2 linked regions of the Homo sapiens genome follow. The protein of the gene in region 2 interacts with the protein of the main gene of each other region in a biochemical or structural test. Each region holds a gene or a part of one and is shown on either strand. Other genes may lie near its edges.

Region 1 (2,599 bases), on a different chromosome or scaffold from region 2:
CTGCAGGAAGGCTATGAAAACAGTCGCTGTTACAATGAGATGGCGCTGATCCGCGTGGTGCAGTCCATGACCCAGCTGGTGCGGCGGCCCCCCGAGGTCTTTGAGCAGGAGATCAGGCAACACTTTAGCACTGGTGGCTGGCGGCTGGTGAACCGTATCGAGTCCTGGCTGGAAACCCATGCCCTGCTGGAGAAGGCCCAGGCACTGCCCAACGGGGTGCCCAAGGCCAGCAGCTCGCCAGAGCCCCCAGCTGTAGCCGAGCTGTCAGACTCCGGCCAACAAGAACCTGAGGATGGAGGGCCAGCCCCAGGAGAGGCCTCCCAGGGCTCAGACTCAGAGGGCGGTGCCCAGGGCCTGGCCTCAGCTAGCAGGGACCACACAGACCAGACTTCGGAGACCGCACCAGACGCATCGGTGCCACCCAGTGTGAAACCAAAGAAGCGGAGAAAGAGCTACCGGAGCTTCTTACCTGAGAAGAGTGGCTACCCTGACATCGGCTTCCCCCTCTTCCCACTTTCCAAGGGTTTCATCAAGAGCATCCGGGGTGTCCTGACGCAGTTCCGGGCTGCCCTGCTAGAGGCAGGCATGCCGGAGTGCACAGAGGACAAGTAGCTGCCAGGCACAGAGGAAAGAGCATCACCGTGGGAGAGGCCAGCCGCCGCCTGCTCACTCCCCCCCGGAATCACCCCTCTTCCCATGCCCCTCTGTCCCCACTGCAAACCCACTGCCCTCTTCTCCCCAAGGTGAGTTTGATGCTGAAGTGCAAGAAGTGTGTTGAGATGCTGCCGTTTCTATTTTGAAGCGAGCTTTCAACAGGCGGGTCCCCTGTGGCAAAGAAAATCGGAACCCTGTTGCCGATTTTCCATTTGTCACCCCAGCAGAATGTCCGGCACTTGCTCCCTTGCTGCCCCTTCTCAGGTCAGAGGCGGGTGTTCCAGGGCCTGCCGCGGGGCTCTCTGGGCCGGTTCCCTGCAGACCCGCAGGAGAGCACATGTGCCTTGCATGAAGTGTGGGTTGCGCCAACAATTCCCCTGGTCCCTTTCAACCTGTTTAGTTCAACTCAAGCCTCCCTGTGTCCCAGACCCTCCTGCTGCCACCACCACCCAGGTCCTCCCTAGTCCTCCAGCGTCAACACTATCCCTTGGGAGTTGTAGCTGCTGTCACTGACTCCCGGCTATACATGGCCTGTCGACCACGTTATAGCCCTCAGGCCTGTTGAACTTGCTCTCTAAGAGAGGTTGGGACCAGGCTAGGTTCCGGGTGACGCCCAGGAGAGGTGGTGGCCTTCACACATGCACATGGAGTTGAGGACCAGGGAGCTGCAGGGAAAGCAACAGCTATAGGTGCCTTGCTCTTCTGTCGGAGGCTGCTGGGGGCAAGAGCAGCTGCACAAGGCCAGGGCAAGTGCTAGGGCCCCTCCCCCATCACATGGTCACACTGGGACAGGCGTGCAGCTCACTGAACTCCAAGCGAGCCAGCCCTCTCTTGGACTAGAAGGCCTACTGTCAGCCCTTCGCTTACAAACTGCAGGCTCAATCCGAAGGGGACGGCCGGCGGGGGCTCTCCTAGTGCCCAGAGACAGGCCCAGAGGTTTACAAGTTTTCTAAGCTTTTGATAATGTGAAGCTCCAGGCCGAGAGGATGCTGTTGAGCACATTGCAGCTATGTAATTTTTGGTGTATGTATGTAATATTTAAGGTTGGAAAAAAAACTCAAAAGCAAAGATATTAACTCTTATTAGAAAAAAAGACAAAAAAAAAGCCAAAGCATGATGCGTCTTGTCAGCCTTAAGTGGGCTCCACACCTGTGCTGTGCTGTGACCGCCCAGCCAGCAGAGCTGCGGGAGGATGGAGCCGGACCACACACCGTGGCATTTGGAACCGAGTCGGTATCTTGTTTGAGAAACACCCGGAGTGACTGGTGGGGCTGTGCTTCCCAGTGCATTGTACATGTGGAGATGTGAATGCCTACTGCTTACGATATCTGTATAAAGTGCTGTGTGATTAAACTTTTTTTTACTTGCATTTTTTTTTTTTTTTTTTTTTGTGTTGGCTCATTAGCAAGACAAGGTGACACCATTAAACCTCCCTCTGCCATTCATCTGGGCTCCGTTGCCTTTGTGTCCCTCACACACACCCTTCCTGGGGAAGGAAAGACCTTGTTTGTTGCCAGGGAAGGCATGTGGCAGTGGGTCCTGGCTTTCCTGGCCAGGTGGGGGCCACTGTGAACAGCACCCCCACCCGCCCACACTGCCCTCTGCCTGCCAGACCTGCTTGCATGCCTTTTGTACTTCTTGTCCTGGAGCAGTCCTCTGGCCTCCTCCTGGCCGGTGGTGTGCCCCTCAGGAGCCAGCTTAGAGCAGCCTCCCAGCAGCTGTAGTCTCCAGAGACCTACAACTGACCAGTTCAGCTCCTTCCAGGTTCTGGGAGAGCCGACGTCATAGCACCTGGCGGTGGACAGGTGCCACAACTCCTGGACGCTAAGCCAAAATGGTTGCCCAGTTTAGACTTGGATGGATCCTTCCCTGCCACATTCTTTCCACTCCTGCCTGGCACTCCTCCACAGGGACAGGTAGGGAAAGGAGACAGCTGAGGGAGGCT
Region 2 (5,380 bases):
CGGAGGCCAGGTGTGGTAGCTCACACCTGTAATCCCAGCACTTTCGGAGGCTGAGGTGGGCGGATCACCTGAAGTGGGGAGTTCGAGACCAGCCTGACCAACATGGAGAAACCCGTCTCTACTAAAAATACAAAATTAGCCGGGCATGGTGGCACACGCCTGTAATCCCAGCTACTCGGGAGGCTGAGGCAGGAGAATCGCTTGAATACAGGAGGCAGAGGTTGCCGTGAGCCAAGATCAAGCCACTGCACTCCAGCCTGGGCAACAAGAGCAAAACTCCGTCTCAAAAACAAACAAAACACCCTTCAATGGTCCCCCGTCACCTTCTGCAGAATACACATTCCTACTGATTCAGGCCCTGTCTACCTCCCCACACTCATTCCCACTCACGCTCCTCCACCATGTTTGCTGCAATCACAGTATTCCTGAGGTTAGTTCCCTTCTCACATATTCTAAATGCAAGGTGTGAGACAGTCAGACTTCATAACAATTGTTTAAGGACAACATTCTAAGAGCTAAAACACCACTTACCAGCTGTTAAAGAATGAGGTGTTTTTTTCTGTTATATACCTTTGATAATGTCTCTATGAACATCTTGGCTTATATGGCTTCCCACTCCCAGTTATCCTTAATTGATATGGCAATAGCAGGACCGCTACAGTAGCATTTCTGGGTCAAAGAGCATGAATGGATTCTGATACATACTGCCAAAACAGTTACACAATAACATCAACTGTAATTTGGCTACTTAATTGAAGCTCTCTATTGCCTAAGAAATGTATCTCATAGCACCTTCCTTACCCCACACATACACACTAATTGCTGAAAGAAGCCTACTAACCTGGAAACATCTAACACTGTCAGTTTAATGGACAGATTCTTGTTGTCATCACCCTATCAGTAACACCTCGTAAAGACACATACTTCATTTCCAGCACCTCCTATACTAGCAAGGGACCTACATGTCAGGCACTTCATACATTTAATACCAAGAGAAACTCCACTAGGGAGGGACTATCCTCAGTTTACACGAAAAGAAGCTGAGGCTTGGAAAGGTGAGGTGCCAAATTGAAAGTCACACGGCTAGTAAAACATGCATTCGTGTTTCAAATCTGACTCCTTCTAACCTTTCCCTAGTACCAACACCACTTCACTTCTGGCTGTTTCTACTTGCTCATTAAAGATTCTGTTGCTGCTAGGCTGGGCCTGGGGGCTAACACCTGTAATCCCAGCACTTTGGGAGGCCAAGGCGGGCAGATCACGACGTGAGGAGTTCAAGACCAGCCTGGCCAACATGGTAAAACCCCGTCTCTACTAAAAATACAAAAATTAGCTGGGCATGGTGGCACTCGCCTGTAATCCCAGCAACTGGGAGGCTGAAGCAGGAGAACTGCTTGAACCCAGGAGGCGGAGTTTGCAGTGAGCAAAGATTGCACCACTGCACTCCAGCCTGGGCAACACAGCAAGACTCCATCTCAAAAAAAAACAAAAAACAAAAAACCTGTTGCTGCTATTGGAACAAGTGACAAGCAACAGCTTAGTCAGGGTTGAAATCCTACTGTTCAGCAGCATCTCCAAGAAATCCATTTTGTCTACAAATGGAGTGTGACAATACTCCCTTTTGATGCTGTTCACTATGCAGCCCCAGAGCCCCTAACAGTTCCTGGCATAATAAATATCTGTTGAAAGCATAAACCACCTGTGTTAGGACATGAGCCAAAGAGGTTCACCTTCCCATGGAATGGTACCTGTTCCAACTTAACAGAGTCCATTGATAAAATGATTCACTCAATTTTCATTTAAGTGAAGGCTGTGCTTTTTTAAAGAGACACACAGTCTCACTCTGTTACCCAGGCTAGAGTGCAGTGGCAGGATCATAGCTCACTGCAGTCTCAAACTCCTAGCCTCAAGTGATCCTCCCACCTTAGCCTCTCAAAGTGCTGGGATTATAGGACAGAGGCACCATGCCCAGCCCGGCATGTGCTGTTTAATACAATTTTTGTTAACAAGATGACAAGGCAGTTAAGTTAAACCCAACACGGTATTCTGGAAAAAAAAAAAAGTGCTAAATCAAGGATAGAAAAAAAATAATGAATTTACACAATAAAAAAGAAAATAATTTTGACTAAAGAACCAACCAACCCAGAACTCAATGCCTAGAACAAGACAGACACACACTGAACAGCCTGGTTTCAAATCCTACCCCTATCACAGATCACCTGAAGCTCAGGAGTTTCAGACCAGCCTGGGCAACATGGGGAAACCTCGTCTCTACAAAAACAACAAAAAAAACAAAATTAGCCAGGCATGGTGGTGTGAACCTGTAGTCCCAATTCAGGAGGCTGAGGCAGGAGAATCGCTTGAGCACAGGAGGCAGAGGTTGCAGTAAGCTGAAATAACACCACTGCACTCCCGCCTGGGAGACAGAGTGAGACTGTCTCAAAACAAAAAGAAAAAAAAAAAAAATGAGGCTGGACACAGTGGTTGATGCCTCTGGTCCCAGCTACTTGAGTGGCTGAGACAGAAGCAACACTCAAGCCCAGGAGTTGGAGGCCTGGCGGCTGCAGTGAGCTATCACTGCGCCACTGAACTCCAGCCTGGACAACAGAGCAAGACCCTGCCTCAAAAAAAAAAAAAAAAAAAAAAAGGCAACAAACCCTACAATGGCTGGCTATGCTCACCACCACGACCACAGCAGCAACCCAAACCCAGCCCTAGTCAGTGAAGATTTAAAAACCCTTTAACAAAGGCCAGGTGTGGTGGCTCCCACCTGTAATCCCAGTACTTTGGGAGGCCGAGGCGAGCGGATCATCTGAGGTCAGGAGTTCGAGACCAGCCTGACCAACACGGAGAAACCCGTCTCTACTAAGAATACAAAATTAGCCGGGCATGGTGGCGCATGCCTGTAATCTCAGCTACTCAGGAGGCTGAGGCAGGAGAATCTCTTGAACCCAGGAGGCGGAAGTTGCAGTGAGCCGAGATCTCGCCATTGCACTCCAGCCTGGGCAACAAGAGCGAAACTCTGTCTCAAAAAACAAACAAACAAAAAACTAACAAACACACTTCAATGGTCCCCCGTCACCTTCTGCAGAATACACATTCCTACCAATTCAGGCCCTGTCTACTTCCCCATACTCATTCCCACTCATGCTCTTCTGCATAACCTTCCTCTGGACCTCAGTTTCATCATCCACAAACTAGAAGACAGTGGCTACCTGAGAAACTGTTAATGGAGACAAATTTCCTAGTACATAACAGCAGGCCAGGTCTCTTTTCACTTTTGTAACTGCCATGCATATAGACTACATCTATTCCTTGATATGAAACCAACAAATCAAGTTACTTTAAACACTGCACCCTTTATACAGGTTGAGTATCTCTTATCTGAAATGCTTGGGACCAGAAGTGTTTCAGATTTTAGAATATTTGTATAAACATGATCAGGTATCTTGGGGATGGGACCCAAATCTAAACATGAAATTCATTCACGTTTCCCACACATCTTATTCACATAGACTGAAGGTAATTTTATACAATATTTTAAATAATTTTGTGCATGAAACAAAGTTTTAACTGTGATCCATCACGTGAAGTCAGGTGTGAAATTTTCCACTTGTAACATTAATGTCAACACTAACGGAGTTTCAGAATTTGGAGCATTTGGATTTTTGATTTTGGGATCAGGAGTGCTCAACCTGAATAAGGAAAGACAATGTAGAGAGGTGGTATTATAAACAAGCTAGAGTTCAGTCAAGTTTCAGCACCACAAATTATTTTTGTTTATCAATCCCTATCACCCTTAAAACAGAAAGTTATAAGGAACTATCAAATATACAGGTTTGAGGAAAATAAATATCTGTTTGTTTTAAATGTTATGTTCAGTTTAATACTAGTCTTATAAAACCACAGCCCGAAGACTCATCCAGAAGGTTCTCTCACTTTTAAAAGGCAATCAAGGGATCTATACAACCTGGTGACTATAGTTAACAACAATGTATCACATAATTGAAAAATTGCTGAGAGTAGATGTTAAGTGTTCTTGTCAGAATCAGTATACCACCTAATGTGAATTAACTTGACTTAGCCATTCCACAATGTATAGTACTTCAAAACATCGCATTATACATCATAAATATAATTTTGTGTTAATAAATAATAACTAAAAATAAATAAAAGACAATCAAGTTAAATTATGAAAGGGATACCAGGCAAAAGAATGTTGTAAGTTTTCTAAAGTTCAGGTTCCCTCCCAAGGTCAAAAACTTTAACTGTGTCTACAATTCTAAATCTGAACTGGCAAGCAAATTTTCACCCAGTTAATTGGGTCGAGGAAAAATAAAATAAAATAATTCCCATGATTACACAAATGTTCTTTTATTTATATTAGTCACTGTAACAATCCTATTTATGGATTAATTTCTTTGTACCCCAAACAACTGTTTTCTTATGAAATTTTTAAAGATTTTTGTAACAAAATATAACCTTAAATTCCTAATTTTGAACTGAAAACATCTACTCCATAGCTAGAGTAACTATAAAATTGGGCCATGGCCAGGCACGGTGGCTCACGCCTGTAATCCCAGCACTTTGGGAGACCAAGGCGGGCGGATCACATGAGGTCGGGAGTTCGAGGTCAGCCTGGCCAACGTGGTGAAATTCCATCTCCATTAAAAATACAAAAATCAGCTGGGCATGGTGGCACACGCCTGAGGTCCCAGCTACTCAGGAGGCTGAGGCAGGAGAACTGCTTGAACCTGGGGGGCGGAGGTTGTAGTGAGCCAAGATTGCCCCACTAGACTCCAGTCTGGGCGACAGAGCCAGACCCTGTCTCAAAAAAAAAAAAAAGAAAAAGAAAGGAAAAAAAAATTGGGCCACGTTTGAGAGACAAAGCTAGAGAGTGTAGTCGTACTCCCCAAAACTTTTATATATTTACTCTGTCTTAATAAACTCAAAGGTCCTCAATGTCTTTATGGGAGATAACTGAAGGATTAAAATTAATTCAAATGTAATTAATGTTTTCACAAGACTCCTTATAATTTCCTTACAAATCCTATATATCCTACAAAATTAGGGATGGTAGTAAATTTTTTTTTTTTTTTTTGAGATAGAGTTTCGCACTTGTTGCCCAGGCTGGCGTGCAGTGGCGCGATCTCGGCTCACTGCAACCTCCACCTCCCAGTTTCTCCTGCCTCAGCCTCCCAAGTAGCTGGAGTTACAGGTGCCCACCACCATGCCCAGCTAATTTTTTTTTTTTTTTGTATTTTTAGTAGAGACAGGGTTTCACCATGTTGGCCAGACTTGGTCTCGAACTCCCAACCTCAGGTGATCCACCTGCCTCAACCTCCCAAAGTGCTGGGATTACAGGTATGAGCCACCGCAC

What was found.
Region 1: the proteins of NAP1L4 (region 2) and UBE2O are reported together in a solved structure, tested with the Homo sapiens proteins (one study listed by BioGRID).

Annotation. Positions count from the first base shown.
Region 1 is NC_000017.11:76,388,956-76,391,554, reverse strand, and holds the end of UBE2O ((E3-independent) E2 ubiquitin-conjugating enzyme), read left to right. Parts: coding exon 1-612; 3' UTR 613-2,099; downstream 2,100-2,599. UniProt on the Homo sapiens protein: E2/E3 hybrid ubiquitin-protein ligase that displays both E2 and E3 ligase activities and mediates monoubiquitination of target proteins. Negatively regulates TRAF6-mediated NF-kappa-B activation independently of its E2 activity.
Region 2 is NC_000011.10:2,981,543-2,986,922, forward strand, and holds part of NAP1L4 (nucleosome assembly protein 1-like 4), read right to left. Parts: intron 1-5,380. UniProt on the Homo sapiens protein: Acts as a histone chaperone in nucleosome assembly.